7 linked regions of the Homo sapiens genome follow. The protein of the gene in region 5 purifies or fractionates together with the protein of the main gene of each other region. This does not show direct contact. Each region holds a gene or a part of one and is shown on either strand. Other genes may lie near its edges. The genes, in order: P3H1, RPA2, CREB3L2, PPP2R3A, AJUBA, GAN and PTPN21.

The links.
Region 1: the proteins of AJUBA (region 5) and P3H1 purify together in Homo sapiens (affinity purification with mass spectrometry; one large-scale study listed by BioGRID and IntAct). This does not show direct contact.
Region 2: the proteins of AJUBA (region 5) and RPA2 purify together in Homo sapiens (affinity purification with western blotting; one study listed by BioGRID). This does not show direct contact.
Region 3: the proteins of AJUBA (region 5) and CREB3L2 purify together in Homo sapiens (co-immunoprecipitation; one large-scale study listed by IntAct). This does not show direct contact.
Region 4: the proteins of AJUBA (region 5) and PPP2R3A purify together in Homo sapiens (co-immunoprecipitation; 2 studies listed by BioGRID and IntAct, with this or other methods). This does not show direct contact.
Region 6: the proteins of AJUBA (region 5) and GAN purify together in Homo sapiens (affinity purification with mass spectrometry; one large-scale study listed by BioGRID and IntAct). This does not show direct contact.
Region 7: the proteins of AJUBA (region 5) and PTPN21 purify together in Homo sapiens (affinity purification with mass spectrometry; 2 studies listed by BioGRID and IntAct, with this or other methods). This does not show direct contact.

The regions. Positions count from the first base shown.
Region 1 is NC_000001.11:42,749,259-42,753,756, forward strand, and holds part of P3H1 (prolyl 3-hydroxylase 1 isoform 1 precursor), read right to left. Parts: intron 3,407-4,498; coding exon 3,279-3,406; intron 3,112-3,278; coding exon 3,016-3,111; intron 1,079-3,015; coding exon 928-1,078; intron 1-927. UniProt on the Homo sapiens protein: Basement membrane-associated chondroitin sulfate proteoglycan (CSPG). Has prolyl 3-hydroxylase activity catalyzing the post-translational formation of 3-hydroxyproline in -Xaa-Pro-Gly- sequences in collagens, especially types IV and V.
Region 2 is NC_000001.11:27,893,614-27,897,887, forward strand, and holds part of RPA2 (replication protein A 32 kDa subunit), read right to left. Parts: intron 4,095-4,274; coding exon 4,020-4,094; intron 3,509-4,019; coding exon 3,392-3,508; intron 785-3,391; coding exon 677-784; intron 494-676; coding exon 399-493; intron 1-398. UniProt on the Homo sapiens protein: As part of the heterotrimeric replication protein A complex (RPA/RP-A), binds and stabilizes single-stranded DNA intermediates that form during DNA replication or upon DNA stress.
Region 3 is NC_000007.14:137,873,713-137,877,514, forward strand, and holds the end of CREB3L2 (cyclic AMP-responsive element-binding protein 3-like protein 2), read right to left. Parts: 3' UTR 1,267-3,802; downstream 1-1,266. UniProt on the Homo sapiens protein: Transcription factor involved in unfolded protein response (UPR).
Region 4 is NC_000003.12:135,968,038-135,972,535, reverse strand, and holds part of PPP2R3A (serine/threonine-protein phosphatase 2A regulatory subunit B'' subunit alpha), read right to left. Parts: intron 1-4,498. UniProt on the Homo sapiens protein: The B regulatory subunit might modulate substrate selectivity and catalytic activity, and might also direct the localization of the catalytic enzyme to a particular subcellular compartment.
Region 5 is NC_000014.9:22,971,833-22,976,330, forward strand, and holds part of AJUBA (LIM domain-containing protein ajuba), read right to left. Parts: intron 3,273-4,498; coding exon 3,142-3,272; intron 3,059-3,141; coding exon 3,007-3,058; intron 2,284-3,006; coding exon 2,215-2,283; intron 1,737-2,214; coding exon 1,611-1,736; 3' UTR 1-1,610.
Region 6 is NC_000016.10:81,359,312-81,363,809, reverse strand, and holds part of GAN (gigaxonin), read right to left. Parts: intron 1,312-4,498; coding exon 1,199-1,311; intron 17-1,198; coding exon 1-16. UniProt on the Homo sapiens protein: Probable cytoskeletal component that directly or indirectly plays an important role in neurofilament architecture.
Region 7 is NC_000014.9:88,544,493-88,548,990, forward strand, and holds part of PTPN21 (tyrosine-protein phosphatase non-receptor type 21), read right to left. Parts: intron 1-4,498.

The sequences.
Region 1 (4,498 bases), on a different chromosome or scaffold from region 5:
GTGTGCCCAGATTGTGACAGAATTCCAAACATTCTGAGGTAGAGGAAAGCCCTCTGATCTGTGCCACGTACCAATGGCCATCACTGCCAGGGGCCTGCTGGAGGCTCCAGTATGACAGAGCCGGCTCTGGGCCACATAGGATCCTTGCAGCACTAGCTGAACCTCTCCCCTTCTTGGACATGCAAAAGGGAATGTGGGTGGGCGAGGGAATGAGGAATAACCTCCAGGCCACTCTCACTTGTAAATCACGAAGCTCTCTCACAAATTTGGTATTTAACAATTAGTAAAAGAGAATCTGCCACATAGCTATGGTTGAGCTAAAGGATAAAAATTCCCTTGAATGTAGCTCTCCAGGATTTGGCACCTTTCTTAGTTCCCCTGACTACCAGGCTGCACAATGCCTCCACTCCTGTGCAAACACCATCCCACCACCCGGAGTACTCCGTAATCGTATTCATCCTGCAAAACTGCCATTGCTTCCTCTGGGAAGCCTTCTTTTTGTTGTTGTTGTTGTTGTTATTATTTTTGCTTTTAACAAGCCCTTCTGTTGAGGGCTGTCTTTCAACAGATGGCAGCGAGGGAGCTGCTCAGCTATGTATGAAACCCTAACCCGGAGGCAGGTCCTCTATGAATGGTTTAGCACCAGCTTCCCCATTAAAGTGCGTTGTGTGACAAGTGACGGGTGGCCCCCTTTCTGGCTGCACCCCATTTCCCTCTGGGAAGCCTTCTTGATCCCCAGGTAGGTTGACTATAACTTCCTCCATGCTACTGTGGCATGCATCACACTGGGATGCCACCCATGTATTTACATTGGTTCCCCAACTGAAGAAAAGGGACCGCATCCTGTTCTCTCTGTGTCTTCAGCATCCAGCACAGAGCTGAGGTACAGCATGCGGGGGCGGGTGCTGCAGGGGTAATGAGGCCCACCTTCGATGGCAGTGCGGCACACCAGATGAGAGTAGGAAAAGTAGAGGGGCGTATCCAGGCGGAAGTAGGACTCCATGATGCGCCGCACCTTCTCCGTCACGTTGTAGTACAGGTGGGCACTCTGCAGAGGAACTTTGCCTTCTTGCCCCAGCTGCCAAGGAGACAGATGGTCAGCTGCCCTCAACGACTGATATGGTTTGGCTCTGTGTCCCTACCCAAATCTTATCTTGTAGTTCCCATAATTCCCATGTGTTGTGGAAGGGACCTGGTGGGAGATGACTGAATAATGGGGGTGGATCTTTCCCGTGCTGTTCTCATAATACTGAATAAGTCTCACGAGATCTGGTGGCTTTAAAAAAATGGGAGTTTGCGTCCGGGAGGTGAGGGGCGCCTCTGCCCGGCCGCCCCTACTGGGAAGTGAGGAGCCCCTCAGCCCGGCCAGCCACCCCGTCCGGGAGGGAGGCCGGGGGGGGTGGTCGGCCAGCCGCCCCGTCCGGGAGGGAGGTGGGGGGGTCAGCCCCCCGCCCGGCCGGCCGCCCTGTCCGGGAGGTGAGGGGCGCCTCTGCCCGGCCGCCCCTACTGGGAAGTGAGGACCCCTCTGCCCGGCCAGCCGCCCCGTCCGGGAGGGAGGTGGGGGGGTCAGCCCCCTGCCCGGCCAGCCGCCCTATCCAGGAGGTGAGGGGCGCCTCTGCCCGGCTGCCCCTACTGGGAAGTGAGGAGCCCCTCTGCCTGGCCAGCCGCCCCGTCCGGGAGGGTGGTGGGGGGGTCAGCCCCCCGCCCGGCCAGCCGCCCCATCCGGGAGGTGAGGGGCGCTTCTGCCCGGCCGCCCCTACTGGGAAGTGAGGAGCCCCTCTGCCCAGCCACGACCCCGTCTGGGAGGTGTGCCCAGCGGCTCATTGGGGATGGGCCATGATGACGATGGCGGTTTTGTGGAATAGAAAGGCGGGAAGGGTGGGGAAAAAATTGAGAAATCGGATGGTTGCGGGGTCTGTGTGGATAGAAGTAGACATGGGAGACTTTTCATTTTGTTCTGTACTAAGAAAAATTCTTCTGCCTTGGGATCCTGTTGATCTGTGACCTTATCCCCAACCCTGTGCTCTCTGAAACATGTGCTGTGTCCACTCAGGGTTAAATGGATTAAGGGCGGTGCAAGATGTGCTTTGTTAAACAGATGCTTGAAGGCAGCATGCTCGTTAAGAGTCATCACCACTCCCTAATCTTAAGTACCCAGGGACACAAACACTGCGGAAGGCCGCAGGGTCCTCTGCCTAGGAAAACCAGAGACCTTTGTTCACTTGTTTATCTGCTGACCTTCCCTCCACTATTGTCCTGTGACCCTGCCAAATCCCCCTCTGCGAGAAACACCCAAGAATGATCAATAAAAAAAAAATAAATAAATAAATAAATAAATAAATAAAATAATAAAAAATAAAAAATAAAAAAATGGGAGTTTGCCTGCAGAAGTTCTCTCTTTGCCTGCTGCCATCCATGTAAGATGTGACTTGCTCCTCTTTGCCTTCCACCATGATTGTGAGGCTTCCCCAGCCACATGGAACTGTAAGTCCAAGTAAACCTCTTTCTTTTGTAAATTGCCCAGTCTCGGGTACGTCTTTATCAGCAGTGTGAAAACGGACTAACACAACGCCCCTCTTTAGGGGCCAGAGACAATGAGTACCAGGCCCATCCCACGTCCCCACACCCCCACTGAAGCTGCAGCCTCTGCTGCCCACGCCCAATACCCCTACTATATTCCTCTTCCTCCTGTCCTTCTTATCTCTCTTTATGAGCACACTGTGCATCCTGCACAGAAGCACAGCCCTCTAGAATCAGCCTTTCTAAAGAAAGCATTCTCATAGCTTTGGCGAACAGTCTTATCCTGCTCACTTTGTTTTGATTACACTCGGTCTAACAGGATTCAAAAGTGAACCTCACGCAACATAACTCATCCTCGCTTCCTGGCAACAAGAATGTTGGCAGGTGGACCCTCTTCACCTTTCCTGCCACCAGCCCCAACTCTTCCTCAAAGCCTGAGCTTCCCCCTTCCCCACCCCTTTCTCCACACTCTAGAATGCCCAGTGTTGATCTTACCTTGAGGGCTTTGAAGACAGTGACACCATAGAACTTTTCATTGGGAGTATGTGGGGAGGTCTGACCCCGGTAGCCATCTCCTGAGGTTGCTGCCACCTACAAGGCCCAAAACACAAGGTGATGTTAGCCAGGGCAGCTGAGGGCTTGAGAAGAGGTGGTCAACTGTGGCCAGGAAGAGGAAGGCGAAGGCTACCACCCAAGGGGCACTTGGTGGGGGGATGCTGGACCCTTGGGGGAAGGTGCAGTCACTGGGCTTCCCTTACATTGGTCAGTCTCTGCAGCTCCTGACACTCGTGGTCAGAGATTACGCCGTCCATCACCACCCGCTGGGAACCATTCAGGAGTTTGGAGTTCATGGTGAGACTGATGCCTTCATACAGCAGGGGGCCACCTGCAAAGCAATGACAAAACTCTAGCTAAATCTAGCAGCAGCTAGACCAAAGACTCTCCATTGGATATTGCCTCCTCGTCACAAATAGAAATTCCAGCTGTTTCCTTTTCACCAGCAAAATCTCCCGCTAGGTCATTTTCAAAGGTAGAATAGTCCAGAGGACAGAACATAGAGCTGAAAGATGAGATTCCCAGTCCCAGCTCCATGACCAAATAGCTGCTGGCTTTTGGGCCATGACACACTCTTGAGGAAACATCAGAAACACAATCCTAAAACATGAGCTCGGGAACGAGGAAGAACTGACTTTGACTCCTAGATCCTCCATTGATTAGCTGTGTGACCTTGGCAAGTTACTTAACCTCCCTGAGGTTAATTTTAATTAATTAAAATGTTCTCATCTGTCAAACAGCATCTACCTTATATGTTTGATGCCAGTATAATGTTAAGAACAAGGAAGGCAAGTTAAAAGCTTAGTACAATATTTGGCATATGGTAAGTCCTCAAAAGTTTGGCTACCATGGTATCATCATCATTATTCATTTAAAATAAGGATCTTGCAATCTGCATGACTCACCTCTCAGTTATAAGAATCAAGAGAAATAACAAAGTGAAAGTGGTCTGAAAACAAAGGAATGCTGGACAAATTCTTTTCATACGCTAATCTTGTTTAATTAACCACTGTTAATTTAAGCAACTATAGGGCAAAGGTCAACATTTCTCTCTTACAGTTCTCATGGTGTTTCTCTGTGCTAGGGACATACTAATACTAGAGACTCAGTTCAACTCCACTTGATAACTGAGGCCTCAGTGTGTACCAGGAACTGTGCCAGATAGGGTGAGAGATGAATCCTAGAAGACAGTACCTGTTCTCTAACAATTATGCAAATAACTAGCATAAGACAGACCATAAATGCCCTAAGAAGTTCAAAAGAAAGGAGGGGACTCCAATCATCTGGGAGGTTAAGAAAGGCTTTACGGCAGGGCACAGTGGCTTATGCCTATAATCTCAGCACTTTGGGAGGCCAGGGCGGGTGGATCACAAGGTCAGGAGTTTGAGACCAGCCTGGCCAACATGGTGAAACCCTATCTCTA
Region 2 (4,274 bases), on a different chromosome or scaffold from region 5:
TTACTTTTTTTTGAGATGGAATCTCGCTCTGTCACCCAGGCTGGAGTGCAGTGGTGTGATGGTGGCTCACTGCAACCTCCGCCTCCTGGATTCATGCGATTCTCTTGCCTTAGCCTCCGGAGTGGCCGGGATTACAGTTGCGTGCCACCATGCCCGGCTAATTTTTGTATTTTTAGTAGAAACGGGGTTTTCACCATGTTTGCCAGGCTGGTCTCGAACTCCTGACCTCAGGTGATCCACCTGCCTCGGCCTCCCAAAGTGCTGAGATTACAGGCGTGAGCCACCATGCCCGGCTGCCAAGTTTTACTTTTTAAACCCACTTCTCACTATCAGGAAACCCTTGTGAGGTGAAATAGGTACAATGCCAGAGCCTGAGCTCATGAAAATCAAATACTTACTTGATTGAGGATACAGACATGTGTTTCAGCTGGTTCTTGAGATCCTGAAAGTTCAACCCTTCAGGTCTTGGACAAGCCTTAATCAAATTCAACACCTGAAGATTCAAATCAGAAAGATTTTAGCAATTATTTTGGATCAGCCTCCCCTTTGCAAACCTGAGTCCCTTTATAGAAAAGAAATGAACCAGGTACTTAAACAGTCGTAGCTCATTAAGGAAGTAACAAAATTTAAGACTATCTGTGTTTTGTATTTCTGAAGCCACTCTGGTGGAGGTTACCTGGTTTTGGGCCACAGTGAGGCCATTTGCTGGCATGAAGCTATTCCCACCAAAGTTCCCTGCTTCACTCATTCCTGGATTGCTGATAGGTGCTCTCCCTGCTGAGGGCTGAATTAAGAAATAAGTTAGCAATATTAGAAAATCCATCAAGTTAAACAGTCTTTACTACTTAAAATAGCTCGTTAAGCAGCTTACAAAAAACAATTTATAAACAGTTTCCCAGTTTATAACACTGCTTACATTGGAGTGGACAGCTATTATCTAATGAGTATTTCACAGGAAGATAAAGTAACTCCCCGAAGCACATAAATATCAAAAAGAGAAAGATACTCTTGGCTCCTTTTGTTTGTGATGTCAGACGAACCAGAGAAGAGTAGCAGCAAGAAGAAAATTACCCAGAGTCTGCTATTTTGGTATCCATGGAGCCCAATCATTCAAGCATTCACTGAGTGTCAATAGGCATGAAGCACCACAGGCAGAGAAAAGGAGACACAGTCCCTATCGTCCTCTCTTTCTTTCTTTTTTTTTAACCACCAAATTCTTAAAATGCTCTGCAATCACTATTTTCATTTCCTTTCTCCCCAGTCACTCCTCAGCCCACCATATTTGGGTTGTCCCCCAGTACACCTCTGAAACTGTTTTCACCAAAGTCACCAAAGACTTTTCAACCAATTATCCAAAAGTCTCTTTCAGTCCTCCTAATACTTGACCTCTCGGAAGCAGACACTGCTGACCACACTCCTCTTGAAATGTATTCCTCCCTGGGCTTCTTGACACCACATTCTTCTGGTTCTCCATCTGCCTCTCAAACTGAACCTTCTCAGTATCCCTCATTAGCCTCTTCTATCTGTCTCCCAAAAAGCTGACAGTGTCCCCAGGATCTCATCCCAGACCGCCTCCTAGGCCACAAATCCTCATTGCCAGCCGGACTGCTAACCGGATGCCAACATGGTGAAACCCCGCCTGTATTAAAAATACAAAAATTAGCTGGGTATGGTGGTGCGTACCTGTAATCCCAGATACTGGCGAGGCTGAGGCAGGAGAATTGCTTGAACCCGAGAGGCGGAGGCTGCAGTGAGCCGAGATCACGCCATTGCACTCCAGCCTGAGTGACAGAGTGAGACACTGTCTCGAAAAAAAGGGCCAAGCGTGGTGGCTCATGCCTGTAATCCCAGCACTTTGAAAGGAGGCTGAGACGGGCAGATCACGAGGTCAGGAGATCGAGATCATCCTGGCTAACACGGTGAAACCCCTTCTCTACTAAAAATACAAAAAATTAGCCGGGTGTGGTGGCAGCCGGGTGTGGTGGTGGGCGCCTGTGGTCCCAGCTACTCGGGAGGCTGAGGCAGGAGAATGGCGTGAACCCGGGAGGCGGAGCTTGCAGTGAGCCGAGATCGCACCACTGCACTCCAGCCTGGGCGAAAGAGCGAGACTCTGTCTCAAAAAAAACAAAAACAAAAACAAAAAACCCAAATAAACAAAATTTTAAAAATTTGAGTAAAGGTAATCCTTACCATGGCCTCCAAAGCCCCATATAATCTGGGCCCTGCCTCCTTGCCTACAACCCTCTCCCTCTCCCCTGTCATTCACTTCACTCCAGACACTGGCCTTGCTGGTTTCAGAGATGTCATGCTTACTCCACACTCCTGGCTCTTGCACATCCTAGTCCCTCTGGTTTAGAATGTTCCTCATCTAAAATTGTACCATTCTTGTTCCCTCCATCAGCCTCTTCTCCTGTTTTATTTACTTCAGAGCACCTATATAACTACCTAAAATTATACATATATTTTTGTTTATTACTTGTTTCTCCCAAGAATGTAAGTATATAGTGTTCACTGCTATACTCGAATGCCGACTAGAATGATTGGGACTATCAAATCAAAGTAGGCGCAATAAATATTTTTCTTTTTCTTTATTTTTTTTTGAGACAAGGTTGCTCTGTTGCCCAGGCTGCAGTGAGTGGCACGATCACAGCTCAATGCAGCCTTGACCTCCTGGGCTTAAGTGATCTCCCAACCTCAGCCTTCCAAGTAGCCCATCTAATTCTTTAATTTTTTTTGTAGAGACAGGGTCTCCCTATGTTGCCCAGCGTGGTGTCTTGAACTGGGCTCAAGTGATGCCCCCACACCAGCCTCCCAAAGTGCTGAGATTTCAGGCCATGAACCACCACACCTTGCCCTGAGGGCTTTCTAATACTACAGTCAACTCTAGTTTTGCATGGTCCTAGATGGACTTGTCAAAGTGAATTCACACAATGGAAAATACTAGGGAGAAATTTCAATATGAACCAAGAAATATAATTTCAGGGAAAAAATAATAATACATAATTTTTCCTACTTAGCCAGTAAGTTGGAAGGAAGACAGCAAAATGCTGTCCTGAAGGGGACTACTCTCTGAGTATGCACTGACAATCCTGGAGCTAAGAGCTATATAAGAGCTAAGAGCCTATAATTACATGTCTACACCTGAGGGTTGTCACAGGCCTCAGCTGTCCAGGCCAGTGGAGTCAGAGGAACTCCTAATTCTGAGAGAAACATGAGTGTTTCATCTGGAATAAAATACAATGACAAAGCTAATGGAGAAAGTGTTCTGAGGACTTAGTGATGTCTTTCTCTGGCTCGGCCTTCAAAATATCAAGGAAATCAAAGCTGGAACACAAAAGTAGCCTGTGTTCTTCCAGGGAAGAGAAAAAGCTAGGAAAGCGAGACTACTCACCTGGCTGTTGGCTTTGCTTAGTACCATGTGTGCATTGATCACTTCCAGAATATGTGTGGTGAACTCATTCATATCCTCCAGGGGCATGATCTTAAAGGCTACCAGGCTCTTTTTGTTCTATTAAAATGAAGGAAAAAAATGTGAATAAAATATGAACATACATTAATTTCAGGTCAACACTGTGGCTCTTTCCTTGGTTATAATATTAATATTTCACCAATATGAGAAAAATGTTATATACTCTCAGAGGTATTCCAAATATGGTCAAACATGAGGAGAAAAAAAACTAAAACTAATAGCTAAGGGACATTAATAATTTTCCCAAGATTGCATAACCAAGCAAAATCTAGACTCCTGACTCCGAATCTAGTGTTCTCCTTTCTCCAACTAATGAACGCCACAGATAGCAATTGTAGAAGGAGATTCTGTTCTTTCTTTACCATTCTGTTAATTTCATGTTAAGGTTAAAAAAAAAAAAAAGAAAAGTTATTTCCTTTTGAAGAGAGTAAGAAATAACTTCCCATTAAACAGGGAGACTTAAGTATTTTAACTATCCAAAAGCCATGACATGAATCTAGAAACTGCTTCATGCAAAAACACTTTAACTGTTATTTTATTCTGACTTTACCTGAAAAGATCTCAGGTGGCCTGCCACTTTCACATATGTTTCTGGAGGAACCACAGTGTTTTCACTGCTGGTGTCCTAACATAAAATACAAACATGTCATTAAAGTTTTAGTGATGCTGGTAAAAGCCTCTTTAACGTTTCTATATTATGTATAGAAAGAGAAAGTTACGAAGTAGAAGAGTTAAAGGATCCTAAAATGGCATTAAGTAGTTTGCCCTGCCTTTTACAACTTATTTTGTAAAACCAGGAATTAGA
Region 3 (3,802 bases), on a different chromosome or scaffold from region 5:
AATGTGAGCAAGGGCTTTTATTGTGGTTTATGCAGGAAAAAACAGGCAACACAGGGTACACAGGTTTTGGATTGGCTAGTTTGAATAATTTCAGTAGGCTGCGGGGTTAGAGACTGTCTCTAGTTGTCTGGTACCTGGCCCTAGGGTACCTAGGGCAGGGGGAGAGTAGCCCAGAGTATGAAAGGCCACAGAGGAGGTGGCTGGGCTATGGGCTCCAGGTCGGTTTGTATATGAAAGGCATGCTCCTAAGCTAGGAATGGGCTAGCCCTCGCACGGGTGGTCCCTCCAGGGTCGGCAAGGCCCTAGATGTCAAAGCATTAGGAATTCAGAAAATGGAAAGGCATGATTAATACAGAACATTCTCAAATCAGTGAGTATTTGCCCTCTCCACACACCACTGAAAAGATATCAGCATATTGGGGGGTGGAGGAGCTTCAGAAATAGGCTCCCCACAAAAGAAAGAGTGGGGCATGATAATGAAAGCCTCTGAAGGGAAAGGCCCCCTTGTGTAACAACAAAAGGTCAAGGTGCTCTGAAGAGGACAAGATAGAGCAGATTAATGTACCCTCAAGGCCAGGGCAGGGTTGAGCATGCTGCTAAGGAAAAAAAAACACAAAACAAACAAACAAAAAAATCCCATGTTTTGTTTTTTTTTTCCAAGTAAGCACAGTCCCTGGCCTTAGTCTCTCACATCCCAAGTCAGTCTGAGACTAAACGAAGCCCCCACTCTCTGAGTGAAGAAAGCTACATTTGGATTCAGACATTGTAATGGAACGAAGATTACTCTGCTTGAGTGCACTGACCTTTATCAACCATTTCATCAGAATTTCTGGAGCATGAATCTGTTAGACATCCTCTGCAACTGTTCGTAGGAAGAAGGATCATTCCTTTCTGGCTCAAGTCCAAAGGATCTTTCTCAAGCAACCAGAGATGGGGAAAGCAAAATCAAATCCACAGACAGTTGAAATCTAGTTAGGGAATAGTTAGAGGAGACAATAAAAATAACAGTCATGCTGCATAAGTCTCTAGAGGATACTGTTTTTCTTCCCGTGGCTGCCTGAAAAAACAATTACATTCTCAATATTCCTCCAACTAAGGCTTGGATTCAGTCCTATATAACATACCAATTGCTGGTTTGAGGCTCTTCTTTCAGGCCAAGTAGATATCCAGGAAAGAACGGTTCGGCACACATACACAAACCCATGTTCATAAAAAAACAACATGCTTTTCAAATTAGTACCAAGATTATAAAGACTGGGCAACATCTTACTATTTAAGAAAAAATATTTATTTGCAAGAAATGGAAATACAAAAGCATAACAATTTCAATTTATTTTTTTTTCCCAAACTAAGTACAAGTGTCCTACAAAGCTTTTTTTTTTTTTTGGTATTTACTTAGCTATGATAAAGAATAAAAAGTCATTTAAAAAACGCGATAGGACAGATAACAGACTCACAACGTATTTAGATTTAAACACTGCTGGTCTACGTAACCTGTTACAAAAGAGAGCAAAACCTAACTGTCAGCATAGACATTAAAGCTCACCGTTGATTATAGCTCAGGGCCTGCTCAGCATTGTTTAAAAAGGGTCACTCACAGTTTTGTCAAAGAGTGCTGGTGTTCTCTATGAACTCATAAACTGTTTTATCTGAAAAGGTGATTTTCTAAGTAGTGTAAGCCATGGGTACATGGTGCAAAAAGTTCATGTTCTCACTCAGCTGGTGAGCGAAGGATGGGAGCAGAGAACAGAGCTAAAACCCCTGGTTTTCCTTTCCCCAGATGTAAAGCCTGCTAGCTGGAACTCACAGAAGATTGGAACAAAAAGATAGGAGATGGACACCTGGGGGACTGCTCCAGCACGAAGGGAAGCGATGAGCATCACACAGCAGGGCCATTGCAGGGGACAGGTGCTGTAATTCCTGCCCAGAGAACTTGAAAGCTTACAGTGTGCTCACAGGAAGGAATCGGCTCAGCTAGTCCAGAAATTGCTGCATTTCCCATATTACTTAGTTCTTTATTCATCCTGTGGTAAAGAGTCACCCTTGTTTTCCGTATCTATAAAACTGAAAGACTTAAAATTTACTTAGCACAGCACGCAACACCCTAGTAAATGCTCAAGAAATATTATTTCCCTTCCTTCTAGAAACCAAGGCTAAATAAAACATTCCTGAATTTTATGTTGTCCAAAATAACAAAACAAAACAACACCTAGTTTTTTCCTGTGTTAAGTGCTGACCCTTTGACCACAAAGGCATGGAACATTAATCTTCAAATGAGCCAGGTTCCTTTGCCCTGAGAAATGTTCCGCTATGAGGATTTATAATACCTTTAATCCTGGCTGGTTGTTTTTTTGATGTGATTGCACTCCTGCAAACTGGGATTTTCCTAATGGACGTAACCCTATTTCTTTTCTCCTGATGTGCAAATCTGATAGTGGCTCACTTTTAGGAAACCACTTTTGAGCCTTCAGAAAAAAATTTTTCCCCACACCCAACTCAATCTAATAATAAAAGAATATATACAAAATCTCCCAGTGACGAGGGATTCCTCAGTCATCCTGGATTTACCTATAAGGCACATTTAAGGCACAAATGAGCATGTAAGGGAGGAATGTGCACGTGTGTGTGTGTGTGTGTGTGTGTGTGTGTGTGTGTGTCAGAGAGAGAAGAAGGGAGAGAGAAGTATAAGCATTTGGGTCTTTTGAATAACTATTATTAATGTTTCCTCAATCCCTTCTATTCCCCAATATTCCCTAGGGCCTCAGGCAACACTCTTCCTTATGAAACTGAAAAGTCTTAGGAGTAACTGAATGAGTGAGTGAATGAACGAAACATCTAAGTCTTGTCTCTGGATCCTTCACAGCCCTCACGTCACCACCACCTACTCTCTCCTGTAACTGCCCTCCCAGCGGGGCCTATCCTAGCATGTGTCTATGGATAGTCTCACCTGAAGGTGGCCAAATAAAATGACTCTCAAGAGGGCACTACCTGCCCATGGCTTCACAGGTCCAGCCAGCCCAGCAAGCAGAAGTGCTGGTGTCTTTAACCCAGGTTTCTTAAAGACTGGCTTCAATAGAACCAACTGTAGTGACTTGGGGCAGAGGAAGGGGAGGATGAAGGTCTTCTAGTGCATCTCTGCCCTCTCCGTGTTGGCAAGGTTGGCATGAATGGGCCATTATTCAACTGGGGGTGGGATGTCTCCATTTCTGGACTGTGCTCAAATTCACACCTTGTATGACATGTGGGCAGAGGAGCTGGCCTGGAGAGGCCTCTAATTCTGCCTCTACGCTTTTGCTGGGTCTGAGGACATGGGAGGGAGGAGCCATAAAATGCTGGAGAACAATTTTAAAAAACACTTATGAAAAAATGCTGGACACTTGACTCACTGCCAGAACAAAGAAGAGCCAATTCAACATCCCAACTTTACGGGCACGTAAGATTCACAAGCTGAACCAAGAGATTTAGGAAGAAAAAAAAAAACATGGTAATTATAAGGGGTCTGTGAATAAGTTAAACTAAAAGCTGCTTTCACAATCTACAAATTAGGCCTCCAAATCAAAATCATTTATATTAACCAAAAGGTTATCTAATTTTGCCCATATTGGTGTCAAATCTCATCCCCACTCCCTGCCAAAAAAGAGCAACCTAGTTCAGCTGTCGGATTTTTATATAACACTCTCTTTATGTGAGCTAGACTCCAGAGTCCTCACACTTCACAGAAATTCTTTCTTAAAACTGGCACTGCAGCCTTTCATTTACAATATCCCTTTTTAAGTGCAAAGTCGAGGGCTGTGAAAAGAAC
Region 4 (4,498 bases), on a different chromosome or scaffold from region 5:
GTTCCTCAAAAACTTTTTAAACATAGAATTATTTCATAATCCAGCAATTCTATTCCTAGATACATGCACAAAAGAATTGAAAACAGGTATTTAAACAAAAACTTGTAGAAGAATGCTCTTAGCAATACTATTTATAAGAGCCAAAAGGTGTAAACAATCTAAATGTCAACTGATAAACAAAACGTAGTATATCCATACAATGGAGTATTATTCAGCCAAAGAAAGAATGAAGTACTGATACATGCTACAACCTGAGTGAACCTCGTATACATTGTGCTGAATGAAAGAAGCCAGGCACAAAAGGTTACATATTGTATGATTCCATTTATATGAAATCTTCAGAACAGGCAAATCCATATAGACAGAAAGCAAATTGGCGGGTGCCAGACGGTAGGGGTAAAGGGGAATGGCGAGTGACTGCTTAATGGGTACAGGGTTTCCTTTTGGGGTGATGAAAATGTTCCAGAATTAGCGGTGATGGCTGCACAACATTGTGAATGTACATACTGAAGTAACTGATTTGTACACTTTAAAATGGTTAATTTTACCTCAATTAAAAAAAATCACACAGTTCACCCTTGACAAATCCAGGAACTATACTCAGGAACTGACTCCAAGTCCTCTCCCCACTCAGCTATCCTGTTTCCTCCACAAACCAAAGGAGCTCTGGACCACCTTGGTAATGGACTTTTGCCTCTATATACTGCCAGCCAGGCATAGTACCTAACCATATTTGTGATGATGGAATTCCCACAGCTGTCCAAGCATACACAAGTTTCTAAATAAGATATTTTCTTATAATGGACTCACATTACAAACCATCTTGGACCAAGGTCTGCTTTCATGTCACAAAGTCATCCTTTATACAGAAGTTAACCATCATCCACCTAACTGATAAACCAATGACAGCTATGAAGTCTGGTCCCTCACAAGATGATATTCCTGTTTTCAAGAGTATAGCAATGAGGTTTATGCCTTCAATTAATCAAAACCATTCTTAACCAATAATTCTTGGCATTTTCCACCCCTTATATTTTCTGTTCTGTTGGCAGGCTACAACTCTTAGAAATATGAAGCACAAAATTGACCTTAAAAGCCTCTCTGCTAGGTTAAGGTTGCCAATGTGGCAGAAATGGATAAAAGACAAACTGGTTGTGACCATTTGCATTACAACCCATCCTAAATAGTCACTCTAACACCAAGTCTTCGAGGTAGAAGCCTTCACACAACTTTTTGGAAACCAGTTTGCTCAGTGCTTTCTTCTTTCTGAGCTCAATGAGGGCCTACATCTCCAACTTACATCCATATCCCTCAGGTACCATCAATGATAAATACTTCAAAGTATGAGAGTTTTTACATGCATGCAACTGGAAAATTAAGCTATAATATCAAGTTAATTGGAAAAAATACAGCTGCAAAAACTATTCCTGGGAATCTCACAGTTAGATACACATTCCCTAACATAGCCAAGTATTCCATTTTCAGCATACCAACAATATAGTCTTTGTTCATCAGCTCAATGGGAGGATGATGTCAGGGTCACTGGAGCCCAGATCACCACTGGCCTTTAGGAGCTCTACAGCTTTCCAGTTGAGAAAGAAACTTGTGGCCTAATCACCAACATCTGAGTCAGCCCCTTCAACAGTCCTGGCAAAATTTCTTCTCAGTAAAAAGTAGTCTCCAAAACAAGACCCCTAAGAACGTGGGAGAGGGGTAATCAGACACCATTGACCTACATCCCTAAAAAGTTAGGAGAAATGTTTGAGTAACCAACAGACTAACACCTACATTGTAGGCATGTAAGACACCTCATCCTCCCTCACCACTTCCTCTTTTTGGGCAAGCTTCTCAAAGGAATTTCCAACACTTGCCACTCCCATTTCCTTACTTTTTACCCACTTCATTTTGGTTTCTGCCTCTTCCAATCTAAAATGGTTCTTGCTGAGGTCAAAGACTCCATCTTGCTAAATTCAACAGATCATTTTTGTTCCACATCTTTACTTGATGACACCTCTCTATTTGAAACATTCTTCTCTCACCTTTTATGATGCATCTTAAACTAGAATTAGATTGTGAAGGAAACAGCTAAGACAAAAACCAAATATTGTTTAAATTACTCTTGAAAATCCTTTAAATGGCCCGTTAAATATCGCACACCTGTATACAAGTAAATAAAACTTTTCTCTCTCTCATTTAATAAAAAACATGGTAGAGCGCATTCAGTTAAGTTTGCACACTTTAATTCTGAGCAAGGCGTCATTCCACTGTACCTCTGTGGCCACTTCTCATTCTCTTCCTGGGCTATCCTCCTCTACTAAACTTCAAAATGCTGGGCCTGAGCCCTTTTTTCTTAATCTCTGTCAGTGGTTCTCAACTTCCACAGCTAAGTGGAATCACCTCAGATTCGTCCAAGGCAGCAAATCAGATCAAGTAAACAGAAAAAGAAATTTCTTAGGTGGACCACAGCATTAGCATTTTTTAATCATTCAGTGATTCCAATGTGCAACCAAGATGAGAACACTGTTCTATGCTCTCTTCCCAGACCAGGGATCACATGCTCAAAAGCCTACAGTCAGAGAAATAAATGAGCAAAGTGGGCCAGGCATAATTTTAGGGAGTGGTGGGCTCTGTAGTGAAATAGAAGAGCTGCGATCATCTGTGACTTAGCTCCAATTATTGCTGCCATATTGGAAAACCAACTCAGTAGTGCTACATTTTCTCATTTTTAAAGAGAAACCCCAAATCTGGATTTTTCATGAGAAATCTTCAGATTTTAAAATATTGGCAACTAATTCAAAATTAAACAATAACAAAACCACTGTATGGGCAAAACATCTGTGAGTCAGATTCAGCTGTAGGCTACTGCTTTGCAACCACTGCCCTAGATAATTTCATCCACAGCCTTTAATTTACACCTAAAAATTCGTGCCTCCAGTTTAGCCCTCTGCTCTTGGCTCTGAATTAGAATTGTCAAATGCTTATGTGACCTCTCACTTGAAAATCTCAGCAGTCCCAATGTAAACTGTGATTTAAACTCATCTCAAAACTATTTATCCTTAAATGTTCTTTACTTCAGGTAACACCACCACCATTCACTGGTTGGGCAAGCTAGAACCCTGGGAGTCATCTTAGGATCTCATTTCTCCCTCTCAACCCTTGTACCATATCAACCACCAAATCCTATCAATTACGCCTCCTAAATATATCTCATGAATATATGTACTTCTCTCCATCTCCAATACGACCATTCTTTTCTCTCAGCCACCACCTTTTCTCTCCTATGTTATCCACAGTAACCTTAATTAGGGGCAGCTGTCTCCCACACTCAATCTTGTTTCCTTCCAAAGCATTCTAATATGACCAGAATATTTTATAATCACAAATAATTACAAATATATACACATATACACGCATTACATAAATATATACTTATGTAAATATATGTGTTTGTGTGTTTATTTCACCCAACAATTCCATTTCTAGGAATTTACCCTATAAATATATTTATTCACATATGAAACAGCATATTCGTAGCACTGTTTACGGTAAATTACTGGAAACAATCTAAATGTCTGTCAGTGGGGGAATGGTTAAATAATCTATGGTATATCCATACAGTGAAATACTGTACAGTCATTCAAAAAAATAAGGAAACTATATACTGAAGTGGAAAGATTCCCAAGACATTTTTAAGAAAACAGAGTGTACAGTATGCTACCATTTGTGTAAAACAGTAAGAGGAAAGATATGCATTTCCTTGAATGCCCACAAAAAATGTCTACAATGATATACAAAACTAGTATCAGTGGTTATTCCTTTGGAAGACAGGGAAAATGGTAGCTGGGGGAGGGAGCAGAACCCACCAAAAATGCTCTGATTTGCTTGGAGGAGGGCCCAGGCGTCGGTCTTAAGTTCTGGTGGTTCTGATGAGAGTGTTGGACTGAGAACCACTGCTTAGTGGACAGCCTTTGCCTATTTTCCTAGCTTCATTTTGTGTCATCACTCTCCGTGTTCCTGGCTTCTGGGTTCCCAAAAGCGGCCCTGTTCCTTTCTTCCTCAAGGTATTCACATCTGTTCCTTCTGCCCGGAATATTGTTCCCGTGAGCTTCACCTAGTAACTCCTGTTAATCCTTCACCGTCCACCTCAAAGGTCACTTCCCCATGGAAACTTTCCCCAGTTTCCAAACTACATCAGGACATCTGTTTTATGCACTCAGAGCTGCCTGTACTTCTCCCAGAAATTAACACAATCGTAATGAGATAAATGTATATTTATGCATGTATACATCTGTCACCCTCCTTAGACTATAAGGTCCAGGCATGCAAAGTTGTTTTTACTAATCTATTTCCATACCTAATCTAGTGTCCAGTTGGCAAAACAGGCCTTCAGAAATCTGTTAAATAAATAACTGTTCCCGCCCTCAAGCTTAGTATAGTAAACACCTAAGCAAATGAGGACAATGCTGCGTCACTAGTGTTAAGGCAGCAGTCTGCTCAC
Region 5 (4,498 bases):
TATTGCTAGAAACTTTAAACTTTTTAAAAAAGTTTTTGAATGGTAGATAACATAGAAAAAGACATCCATAAAGGTAGGAAGCAATCTCATCATTTACAAAGTGCTGCAAATTTGATAAATTTATGTTGCTGATAATAGCTCAGAAGTACTCTTGGATGAATAGATATAAATCCTTGAAATATCCAAAGCATGACAAAAAAGAATAGGACACCTAAATGGATATAAACACACCAAAATAGGAATTGAGCTTTTGGCAAATTAGTCATTAAGTCATTAACTTTAAGCAAACAAGTTTTCAGTAAATTGGTTTTAAGAGATCTAGCTTTAGGTGAACTAGTTTCAAGCAAACTGACTAGTATCAAATCAGTGTTTTGCTCCCTCCAGTTCCCCCCAACTCTAGTTTTGGGATTGTGATGGATGCAATCCGGGACCCCTCTGAGAGGTGGCAAGTGAGCTTCTACTAGGAAACCAAGTGTACAAGTGACCTGAGAAGAGAGTAAGAAAGAGTGAGAGAGAGACAGAGAGACAAGAGAGAGAGTGTGTGTGTGCATGAACACACCCACACATGCATACACTGGGCTATATGGCTCAGTGCACCTAAACTTGGGAATGTGGCTAAGCTGAAGCTTCCTAGACATCCCCCCAACAAGCTCCACACCCACAGAGATCTGCTCATTACCTCCCCCAGCCAAGGAGAAGAGCAACCACGTACAATCACCTACCTAGCCTCCCCAGACCCATGTAAGTTCCTGAGAAACAGGGAATACAGGCAGCAACCCCACTCAGAGCTGGTCCCCATTCTCAGACAGATAAGGAGCTCTCCTAGTCCTTAGAAGAAGGCCAAGAAATAACTCATTAATGAGGTCCAGAGTTTCTACCTCTTCATCCAGATATAGGTGCGGGACCCCATATCTGACACCATGTGTCACAAAAAGTGAGGAGCTTAAATTTGGTTGCCTAGCAGGAACTCACCACCCTAGACTTGCTACCTCTCAGGGACATCCCACACTGCATCAACCACAACCCCAAAACTCTGGGGTTTGGGGGAGCTGGAGGGAGAATTACACTTTGATTTGGTTCTAGTCAGTTTAGCTGAAACTAATTGATTTAAAGCTAGGTCCTCTACTCCTGGAATCCAGGACCAGAACATTGCGTGACTCATGCATAATCATACACTAGGCCAGACACAGTGGCTTACGCCTATAATCCCAGCACTTTGGGAGGCCAAGGTGGGAGGATCATTCGAGCCCAGGAGTTCAAGACTAGCCTGGGCAACATGGTGAGATCCCATCTCTAAAACAAACAAAATATATATACTGAAGATACAGAATCAGATGTTCAGAAAGTCCTGGAACCCTCCTGTGTGTGCCTAAGCTCAGACTGCACACATGGGAAAAAGGCCAGTCGCCCCCACCCTGGTAAATATAAGGTTTCTCTTCCACAATCCATTTGGAATATCATGATCTTTGGGTCTCCGGCCCTTGGGGTCCTCCCCAGAGGACTCTTCTGCCAGGCCTGCAGAGTGCATTCTTTGCCTTGGCTGGCCTCAGAGGGGCCCACTGGCCACAGCAGTTTGTCTGCAGGGTGACAGCAGCAGCAGTGATTGCAGCTCAGATATAGTTGGCAGGGGGTTGTCGGGCATTGAGCCGCTGCATGTGGCAACCATGGCAGAGCAAGTGCCCATCCAGAGGGAAACAGCAGCAGCCTTCCTCATCACTCAGCTGCATCCGGCAGTCCTAGGGAAGAAGGCACCTAGTTCACCTCAGCCTAGGCACCTTGGACACTGAGGGTATCTTAGGAGTCTGCCCTGCTCAACACCTGACTCCTAATAACTGGAAGAAAGGGATGGGGTGGGAAGGGAAGGATGGAAGGGATGGAAGAGCAATCTGAGAAAATACTAATACCTCAGCTGGACACCAGGTGTCACTGCTGCAGCAGAAATAATGACACAAGCCTGTCTTTCAAGAAGTTTGACCAGAGTCCCTAGTCTTAGAAAGTCCTGACTCTGGGAGAGTCAGATTCAGAAAGGACTAAGCTACTTGGACCAGAGAGAGTGGCTGGAGGACAAAAAAGAGACTGAAGATAGGTCACAATATCTTTCTGGTTTCCCATGCCCTACACCTCTCCCATAGATGTCTGGTTGTTGCAGGACTTGACTCCTCCCCTCTCCCCATTTCCACTTCTTCTCCAGCACCGCTGAACCCCAACACTCACCTCACAGTGGTAGCACTCAAAGTGATAATCCCGGTCCATGGATATCACCCTCACGATGTCCTCACAGCCCTGAAACATGCAGACCCCCATGGAGATGAGAGCAGCATGTTGCCTCACCTCCACCTTTCCCTCATATACAACCCTTCCCACCCCATGGGAAGATCATACAAATGCCCCCAGAGTCTCTCTGCAATCACCTGTAGTTTTAAGATGCTTCTGCAAATCCTACCAGAACTCTCATCTCCTTCACTGGGCTGCACCCATGGAGCACACTCCCTCTGTACAACAGCCCTGGCCTTACCTGCGTCTCTCAGTTGTGCAGGAAGCAAAGGGAAGGGAAGGGGACAGGAGGCCTAAATAAAGTAGGCTAGGCTGGGAACAAGGGGATCCAATAAGATCTGGTCCTCACTGGCTTTTGGTTTCTCTCCATAGGCACATCCCCTACACTCAGCTTAAATCATTTCTGACCCCTTCCTACCAGTGCTGAGGATTCTTCCCACCTTTTTCCAGCCCCTACATCTGCAGTCTGGTGACCTCGACCTCAAAGAAAGTCTCCTCCTCTGGACTGGGATAGAAGAGATGGAGCCTGGGCCCAGTTAGGCTTTCAGACATGTCCAGGCCCGGATATTAGGGTCAGGGTGGTGACCCCAAGAGGCAGAGTCACACGGGAATCTTCACAGAGTACATTCCTTGGCACTACCACTTCTGGCAGGAGGCCAGGCAGCATGTCCCTATCCCCTCCCCAAAGGCAGTGGCACTGGCTGCCCTGAAGGAGAACCCAGACATACTGACCTCAGAGGGGAGGATGGGTTGGCCACAGGCTGCACACTTAGGAGCATAATTTCTGAAAGAGAGAGGGAAGAGATGAGCTGAGGCTGGGGAATCCCTGGACCCAGTTCCACACTGCATCCCAAGGGGCAGACTCACTTGTGGTAGTCGGTGACACAGTATACTTGGTTGGAGAAGTCCACTGTGAAGGGGATGCCATCCAGGCACTTGTTGCAAACAATGCATCGGAAACAGCCTGGATGATAGGACTTCCCCATTGCTTGTAGGATCTGGCTCATGGGGTAGCAAGAGAATCAGTCTCCCTCCAGTCCCAGCTCTCCAGCTGCCCATTATGCTCCTTATTACTCCCATTAACCTCATCCAACCCGCTGCTATACTCCCAGAACAATGCTATGTAATGTCGGTGAAGAAGTCGTAAAATGGAGGCGGAGACCCTGAAAAGTGCCTGAGAGAGCATTCAGGCCAGCAGTGTTTCACTCTGGCTGCATATCAGGATCACCTAGGCAGCTTTTAAAAAACATCAATGCTTTGGCCCTCCTCCAGGCCTATTATCACAATCTGTGGTGATGGGATCCAAACACTGTTTTTTGTTTTGTTTTGTTTTTTAGTTCTTCCCAGCTGATCTGCTAGGCTACCATGATTGAGAATCACTGATTTAATCCTATCTTTTGTTTTTACAGAAAAGAAAACTGAGTCCCAAGTGATTCTAACCAGTAGCAGAAAGGGGATTAAGACTCAGGACTGGCCGGGCGCGGCGGCTTACGCCTGTAATCCCAGCACTTTGGGAGGCCGAGGTGGGCGGATCACAAGGTCAGGAGATCGAGACCATACTGGCTAACACAGTGAAACCCCGTCTCTACTAAAAACACACCAAAAAATTAGCCGGGCATGTGGCGGGCGCCTGTAGTCCCAGCTAGGCAGGAGAATGGCGTGAACCAGGAGGCGGAGCTTGCAGTAAGCCGAGATCGCACCACTGGACTCCAGCCTGGGCAACAGAGTGAGACTCCATCTCAAAAAAAAAAAAAAGAAGACGACTCAGGACCCCAGGCTGGGCATGGTGGCTCACGCCTATAATCTAGCACTTTGGGAGGCTGAGGCAGGAGGATCACTTGAGGCCAGGAATTCGAGACCAGCCTGGCCAACATGGCAAAACCTTTTATCTACTAAACATACAAAAATTAGCCAGGCATGGTGGCGCATGCCTGTAGTCCTAGCTACTTGGGAGGCTGAGGCACTAGAATCACTTGAACCTGGGAGGCGGAGGTTGCAGTGAGCCGAGATCATTCCACTTTGTCAGAGCGAGACTCTGTCTCAAAAAAAAAAAAAAAAAAAAGACTCAGGACCCCACACTCCTAGCTCAGGCTGGAAGGCCTGGCTGTGCCTGCAGAGTTAGGGAGGGGCTAGGTCATAGAAGCCTGGGTTGACAGGCTTTTGAGCCCAGACTTGATCCCATAGGCAGAGGGAAGCCACTGTAAACAGTTGCTCTGGGGAGGAA
Region 6 (4,498 bases), on a different chromosome or scaffold from region 5:
CGAAGTTATGTCTTGCCTGAAATTACATTAGCGATCCCTGAACACACAAGGCCAATGATCATATTGAAAGCTGATATTCATACACTTAATAAAAATTAGAGAAACATAAAGATGGCAAAAATAGACAATGGGGACTCCTAGAGCAAGGAGACAGGGAGAGGAGCAAGGGCTGAAACACTAACTATTGGGTACGACGCTTGGTACCTGGGAGACTGGATTAATCTTACTGCAAACCTCAGCATTATGCAATATACACACATAACAAACCTGCACATGTATCCCCGAGTCTAAAATAAAAGTTGAAACTATTTTTAAAAATTAGAGAAATCTTTTTTCCCAGTGTTCCAGCATGGAAGTACCACGTTCAAAACCATTTCTCCGGTAATGCTTCTTAAAGATTTCTGGCTTCCCTAACAGCCCACTCTTCCAGCACAACAGCCAGAGAGGCCAAAGCCACTTCTCAAAACAAACTTAAGAAATACATGGTGAGTTCATCAGAAAATCCTCACTTTTTAACCCATAATAGCTCACAACAAGAAAATGAACTGTTACCTCTGGTTCAATACAATTATTTTTGCATAACAAAGGGCAGTGTTTTCAAGTTGACGTGGGAAAGGCTAGTATAAACTATGGCAGAAAGGGCTGTGGAGGACAGGGTCAGGCCAAGGCTATTTGGGATCATAGAAGCCCTAGGTGTTTCATGTCCGTTTGTCAATGAATATTTATGTAGTAAACCCTACGTGCCAAGCACGATTCTAGTGCTGAAAATGAAATACTGACCAGAACACATGTAATTCTCTGCCATCAAAGAGCTTATGTGAAAAACTTTAAATGCCTGGTCCGTGAGATGGTGAGACGTCGTACGAAGACGGGGACAGGAAAGCTAAGAGGCAGGAGGGAGGCCCGCTGAGAAGGTGCTGCGAGGAGGGGGCAGGCCACGCTGGCATCTGCACAGGGCAGGATAAATGTGAAGGCTGGGGTGAGGGCATTCCTGGAAGATTTCAGAAACTCATGGAGGCCAGAAGGAGTGAGGGCCAGGAAGGGGAGGAGAGCCGGGCACTAGAAGGAGAGGTTGGAGCGAATGAGGCAGGTGGCTTGACAAGGCTGCCGTTTCTTCCCTGAACTCAGACACAAAACAAACAGAAGCGCTAAGGGGAAAGAGAAACACATCAAACAAACCAACCAACTAGTGTTTTACCTCGTTCATAGGTGGCAATGCTGTCCATGTATTTGCATCTGGATCATACTTTTCTCCTGAGCTAAGAGTCTGCTTATTTTCATCTTGGCCCCCGAATACAAACAAAAATCCTTCTGCAAAGATCAAAGGAAACACAAATATGAAATGTGAGTCTTCAACACCCATAAACGCCACAGCATATATAGAAACAGCATCTGAAGAAACTCTCTGATGACAACAATGTTCTCTTTGGATTCAGGGCTTTTATCACATCCCATTGGATCCTTGGTGATGGAGCCAAACCATCACTTTGACCATTTTGCTTTACTCATTACTGTCTTTGAGGGGATTTCCACCACCCTACAATGAAAAAGGAAGCCTGGCGTCACCCGCTCAGTCACCAGGCAACTCTGGGCCATCTCAATTCATCTCTTCTGTTCCCTCTCAGCCTCTGGGATTCTCATACAACTTTTGCACCGCAGCGCACATCTGTTCATTCTAGACCCCAGGAATACCCAGATCTGAGGCATCCGTGTGCACTTTCTATTCAAAACAGGATCTAAGAGCAACTGAACTTCCGATTTCATGTAATGGCGTATTAGGTTATTCTTCTGCAAAAAACAATTTGCTGGATAAAACATTTAAAAAATAATCTTAGCCGGGTGGTGGTGGCTCAGCACTTTTGGAAGCCAAGCTACAAGGACTGCTTGAGCCCAGGAGGTTCATAGGAGGCAACACAGCAAGACTTCATCTCTACAAAAAATAATGAAATTAGCCGGGCATTGTGGTATTTGTCTATAGTCTCAACTACTCAGGAGGCTGAAATGGGAGGATCGCTTGAGCCCAGGAGTGTGAAGCTGAAGTGGGCTGTGATCATGCCATTGTACTCCAGCCTGGGCAACGAAGTGAGATCTTGTTTCAAAAATAACAACAATAATAATCTTCTTAGAAGAGGAGAAGCCAACAAGATAACAAGGCAAAACTGAAGGGAAAATTAGGACCTACAGAGGTTATCAAGCATGAAAACCATTTTACACTGAGGGCATTTCTAATCTAGGAAAATTTAAACCTTTTGTCCTGGGGATGAAAAAGACAGAAGTTTAAGCTCCAGGTCCACAGAAAACGTGGCTTCTGGCAGGAGATCCTCTCCAAAGTTCTACACTGTCAGGATGAAGGCCAACCAGAATTCGTACTCAGATTTAAATCTCCTTGCTATCTGGGAAATCATGAGCCTTGAACTTAACTTACAGTTAATACCAAATTAGTAGTGTTTTCAGTCAACTGGCAGAAACAAATGCAAAACTTCTGTAGAAGGACCTTAATCTAAGCCTTAGATTCTAACATCCCAGGACATCTAAGGCAGAAAGTTATTGCTACAAATAATTTTTTTTTGATTTTTTTTGTTTTTTAAAGACAGTCTTGCTCTGTCGCCCAGGCTGGAGGGCAGTGGTGCAATCACAGATCACTGCAACTTCTGCCTCCTGGGTTCAAGCGATTCTCCTGCATCGCCCTCCTGAATATCTGGGATTACAGGCACATGCCACCACATACCCAGCTACTTTTTGTACTTTTAGTAGAGATGGGGTTTCACCATGTTGGCCAGTTGATTTCAAACTCCTGACCTCAAATGATCCACCCGCCTCAGCCTCCAAAAGTGCTGGGATTATAGGTGTGAGCCACTGCGCCCGGCTGCTACAAATAATGTTTAATAAATGAGCAGCATGCAGCCACAGATATCAGACATACCAAAAATTAGACTCTAAGAAAAGACCAGCAGAAGCAGATCATAGGAAGTAGTCTTGCAAAGATTTCAAATATTATAGTAACCAGAAAGATGATTTTTTTCAAGTTGGGTGATGAAGAATAAAGTCTAAAATTTATTTAAAAAACAAAGATAATTTAAACAAATGCTTATCATGTTTAAAAAATAAAAATTAACTGGAAGATAACTCCAGGTAACAGGGAACTATAGAAATAAGAGAGGATTTGAAGGTAATGGTGGATTAAGTTATTCTCCTGTAAAAAGACAAGAATTTGTAGAAATTAAAAAAAAAAAATCAATGGATAAATGTAATAGCAGATTAATCAGAGTTAAGGAGAAAAGAAGATAAATCAAAAGATAATAATCAAGAAAACAGCACAGTGAGACAAAAAGATGGAAAATAATAAGAAAATTTTAAATACACACCAGAGAAGAGATTTTTTAGACTTGCCACTGACTTCACAACAATGGAAGGCAGAAGTCAGTGGAATGACTTCAATGTGCTGAAAAATGATAAATACCAAAGCTGAAATGCTATACTCAGCAAAAATATCCTTTACGAATGAAGACAAAATAATGACATTTGCAGGCAATCAAATCTGAGAGTTGTCCACCAAAAGACCCATATTAAAGGAAATTCAAAAGGATGAACTTCAGAGAGAAGGGAGATGATCCTAGGTGGAAAGTCTGAGGAGTTAAGAAGGAAGAACGAAGAAAGTGGCAAATCTAAATGAACACTATCTACCTACCTACCTGCCTGTCTATCAATCATCTATCTACCTATCTGTCTGTCCATCCATCTATCCATCCATCCATCCATCCATCCATCCATCCATCCATCCATCCATCCATCCAACATATATCAAAAAAAGACATATTGTGTATATAGTAGCTACCCCTTATCTGAAGTTTTGGTTTCTGTGGTTTTATCACCCATGGTCAACTGCAGTCCGAAAATAGGTGAGTTCAGTAAAGTAAGATATTTTGAGAGAGACCACATTCACATAACTATTACAGTATATTGTTATCGTCGTTTTATTATCAGTTATTGTCGTTAATCTTTTACTGTGCTGAACTTAAACTTTATCATGGGTATGGATGTATAGTAAAAACACACAGTATGTACAGGGTTCAGCACTATCTGTGGTCTCAGACAACCACTCGGGGGTCTTGGAATGCATCCCTCATTGATAAGGGGGATCTACTGTACATATTTATTAGTGATAATGCATTTTAAAACTGTAAGAGTATGGAAAATGGAAAATGAAGAAAAACTCTCCTGAAGAGAACACAGGTACTGACTAACTTTGGACTTTGCTAACTTAATACAGGCTGTAATTTCTAAGGTAATCTTCCTAAAGGACTATTAACAAGAATGTAAGTCCCAAACTGGTAGAGAAGAAAAATTGAATGACAAAAAAACAGTCAAAATCAATTTTTAAAAAGGCAAAAAAAAAAAAAAAAACAATGCAGCCTGGACAAACGGAAGGACCTCCTCAATCACTCACTTCTGTTTCCATCAATTCCACTGTACACAGTCGCTCCTTCCATTGCTGGGT
Region 7 (4,498 bases), about 66 Mb from region 5:
GGTCCTTTGCTAAATGTTTTACATTTAACACCGAATCCTCATAACCACTATCAAGTAGGTACTATTATTATCCCCAACTTACAAATGAAAAATCAATGAACTTGGGAAATTAAGTGATTTAATAATTACTTAAATGACAGCACTTGGATGCAACCTAGGTGTTTCTGAATACTGCAGACTGTCTTAACCACTTTACTAAGCAGCCATCTCAAGAGGCAGACAGGCACTGAAGCACCACTGAAGCACCGCGCAGAGGAAAAGGTGCCCTGACTCAAAGGAATTTGTCTGGTCCTGGAGGCAGCAATTCTCTGCTTATAAAAATATGTACTTTTTCTTTTCTTTTCTTTTTTTTTGAGACAGAGTCTCACTCTGTCGCCCAGGCTGGAGTACAGTGGCGCAGTCTCGGCTCATTGCAACCTCTGTCTCTCGGATTCAAGTGATTCTCCTGTCTCAGCCTCCCAAGTAGTTGGGACTACAGGCATACACCATCACGCATGGGTAATTTTTTTGTATTTTTAGTAGAGATGGGGTTTCACCATGTTGGCCAGGCCAGGCTGGTCTTGAACTCCTGACCTCAGGTGATCTGCCCACCTCGGCCTCCCAAAGTGCTGGGATTACACGCGTGAGCCACCGCGCCTGGCCGACTTATGAAAATATCTACTTTTTCAAGGTAACATTCTTCTGATTCCATGTTCACCAAGAAACTTCTGGTTTGTTCTGGTTCCCATGTGCCCTAACTATAGGAAAATCTTGGCCTAGGCAGAGGGCACACATACCTGGGACCCTTGGCAGTTCCTTACTGCTTATAAATTACTAAACTTGGGTCCTGGTTTTACACATCATTTTTAGCGAGCTAGATTAAATCAGGTCTTCCCATGACATGAGATTTTTGAGCCTGACTCTTGCACTCTGGATTGTGCTGATTCCGTCAAGGTGATGCCCCAGGCAGTGCCCATGCCCAGGTGGCCACTTGTGTCACCACCTCCTTCAAGCCTCTACAGCATATGCTTTTAAAATTGGAGAAAATTTTCTAGCTCCCCTTAAATTCCACAAGGACTCACAGCCTCTCTTGAAAAAATGTTTTGAAACTCAGAAGAATGATAGGCAGGGAATTTCAACAGCTTTGAGAAACTACTGCTATAACGAACAGCAATATTTTCCTAAGGGAATAATTCATTTTCCCATTTTTAAAAGTTACTTTGGCTCACGCCTGTAATCCCAGCACTTTGGGAGACCGAGGCAGACGGATCATGAGGTCAGGAGATCGAGACCATCCTGGCTAACACGGTGAAACCCCATCTCTACTAAAAATACAAAATTAGCCGGGCGTGGTGGCATGCGCCTATAGTCCCAGTTACTTGGGAGGCTGAGACAGAAGAATGGCATGAACCTGGGAGACTGAGACAGGAGAATGGCATGAACCTGGGAGACGGAGGTTGCAGTGAGCCGAGATCGCGCCACTGCACTCCAGCCTGGGCGATAGAGCGAGACTCTGTCTCAAATAAAAAAAAAAAAAAAAAAAAAGAAGTTACTTTCTGTAGTTCAAATATGGTGAATTTAAAAGAAAGTTAGCAACCTAAGTTAACTACATTGGATACATGTATATTAACCACGTTGCTTTTAATTTAATACAAAATATCTTAGACACTTGTAAAAATATGACAGCTAAAAATACAAACAAAAAAAATACCCATATACCCAGTGTAAGAAACACTACTGATATAGCTGAAACCCCTGGGTATAGTGTTATACTATTGTGCGGCCCTTGTAACTGTCATTATAGGCCCGGGCACGTTGGCTCACTCCTGTAATCCCAGCACTTTGGGAGGCCAAGGTGGACAGATCACCTGAGGTCAGGAGTTCAAGACCAGCCTGGCCAACATGATAAAACCCCATCTCTACTTAAAAAAAAAAAAAATACAAAAATACAAAAATTAGCCGGGCATGGTGGTAGGCACCTGTAATCCCAGCTACTGGGGAGGCTAAGGCAGGAGAATCGCTTGGACCCGGGAGGCAGAGGTTGCAGTGAACCGAGATCGCGCCATTGTACTCCAGCCTGGGCAAAAGAGTGAAACTCCATCTCAAAAAAAAAAAAAAAAAAAATTGTCATTATAGAAGTGAAATGGTATTCAATTAAGCAAGAGGGACTTTTCCCTCCATTTATATTTGGACAGTAGCAAAGTTTTCCACCCAAATCTATATGCGATAATTCCAGATTTGCTTGGTGGGAGAACAGTGCAAGAAACCAACATACTGATATTTCTTGGTATGAATCACACAGAGACTATATGTACAAACTAGAAACAGGTGTGACCCCACTCAGATTATTTCTGAACAGTCATTTGTTAAGATTAGGCCTGATGCCTGAGCCATCTGTTTATATGCTACAGAGCAGAGCTTCTGGGGCTTTCAAAGAAAAAGTTTGCTATACAAACTTTCTACCCATGACTGTTACATTTATGTTGGAAATTGTGGGACAGACTCTCCACAGGCAAAACATTTTCTAGGGACCATGCCTGTTTCCTCTTCTGTTAAAAATCAGGCTCAAAATATACCCACAGCTATATAAAGTTACTTGTTCCCTGAGACTGATAACTTCTAACAAGGGATGGCAATTTCTCTGGACTTATTAACAGAAGGAAGGCAATGCCTGTGGGTTCAGTTCTCCCTGTATTTACTGAACACATTCCACACCTGGTATAAAAATAAATAAACCACAGTTCCTCAAGAAGCTGACTCTCTAGGCGTTATAGACAGACCTGGTGCACGAGGAAGAAAATTACAGGAAGAAGAAACCATAATAGGAAAAAAAAAAAAAAAGTCGAAGCAACCAAAGTAAATAAATAAATAAATAAATAGAATATAAGCCACTAAGCCAGGCAAGGTGGCACACGCCTGTAATCCCACCTACTCACAAAGTTGAGGCAGGAAGATAACTAGAGGAAACAACTCCCAGACCAGCCTGGGCGACATAGCAAGACTCCATCTCAAAAACACAAGTTAAAAAAAAAATTAGCTGGGTGTGGTGGAGTGTACCTGTAGTCCCAGCTCTTGGCAGGCTAAGGCAAAAGGATCACTTGAGCCTAGGTGTTTGAGGATGCATTGAGCTATGACGGTGCCACTGTACTCCAGCCTGGGTGATGGAGTGAGACCTCATCCCTAAAAAAGAATAAATGCAAGTAAGCAGGGACTGGTTACTGAGGCCTGCTGTTCTGGTTTTCTTTCTTCTTCTTCGGCAGTTTCATCTCAGTTTCCTTCCAACACTTTCCCCTCCTCTAATCTACCATGAGGGGTCTGCGATGTCCTCTTTTTCTCCCCTGGAGAGCCTCATACCATCTTCTGGCTTTAATGAACTCACTTAGGCTGATACTTCCCAATATCTTCCCTCTAACCTGGATCTCATGCCTGAACTCCAGATCAGCAGATCCATCTGTCTATTCAAAACCTCCAACTGGCACCTCAAACTCAGTATTTCTAAAACTGAACTCACCACACGCTCCTCCTTGCCCCTAATAGATCTGCACTTCCTTTCACATTTCCTCTCTGTTATAGCCCCACCATCTACTGAAAACCTGAATATCAACCAGGACCCATGCTAACCCTTCTCTATTACTCGGTAGGTCCTGATCCAGATTCCAACCACCTCTCTCCAACCCTATCCAACTCCAGGTGGCTACCATCTGTACCTGAACCACTCCCCTCAAATCATTCTCCAAAGGGCTCACTCTTCACAGAAACAATCGTACCACACCTGTTTACACCCTTCATTAACTTCCCCACTACCCTCAGGATAAATCTAAATCCTTTAACAAAAAATCCTCATTGTGTGGCCCTTACAGTCGGCCTTTCCTCCACGCACTTCAGGCTTCAGGCAGACCAGCTTCCTCTGCGTCTTTGGTCCTGTGCAGTTCTCTTTGTTGGAACTCCTCCAGCCCTTGATAGGACTCCCTTGCCCCATCCTCAGGTCACAGCTCAGAATCAAATTCCCTGAGCAGCCTTCCCTTTGCTGCACCTCCCTCTGGCCTATAGCACACCCTCTACTTCCCTTATCACAGCATGCATCATGCCTGTTTTCTTACTGGCAACAACACTAGGGTGAGCTTCCAAGTATGTATGTGCTTGGCACTTACGCATCTTCAGTACTGAGTGATCATATAAGTGATTGGATGGTCACCAGGAGCAAAGTTCATCTATTCCTGACTTTTTAGGTGGAATAACCAGTTTCTCTAACTTTCCCTTACCCAAGAACCAGGTAGCCAAAGGTAGGGAGGGTCCTAGGTTTAATTAGAGACCTTTCTTCACAGGCCTTGCATAACATTTTAAATTTAAGACATTATATGGATACATGAGTACTCCATAACTTCCTACCAACTAGATTAGGGGTTTCCTGGGCAAACCTCCCAATCGGTACTCTAATAGACTAGTTAGCAGAGCTTACAACCTTATGCTACTCTGAGAATTAGGTGTCACAGTCATCCCCATGGTTCAGATGGAGAAC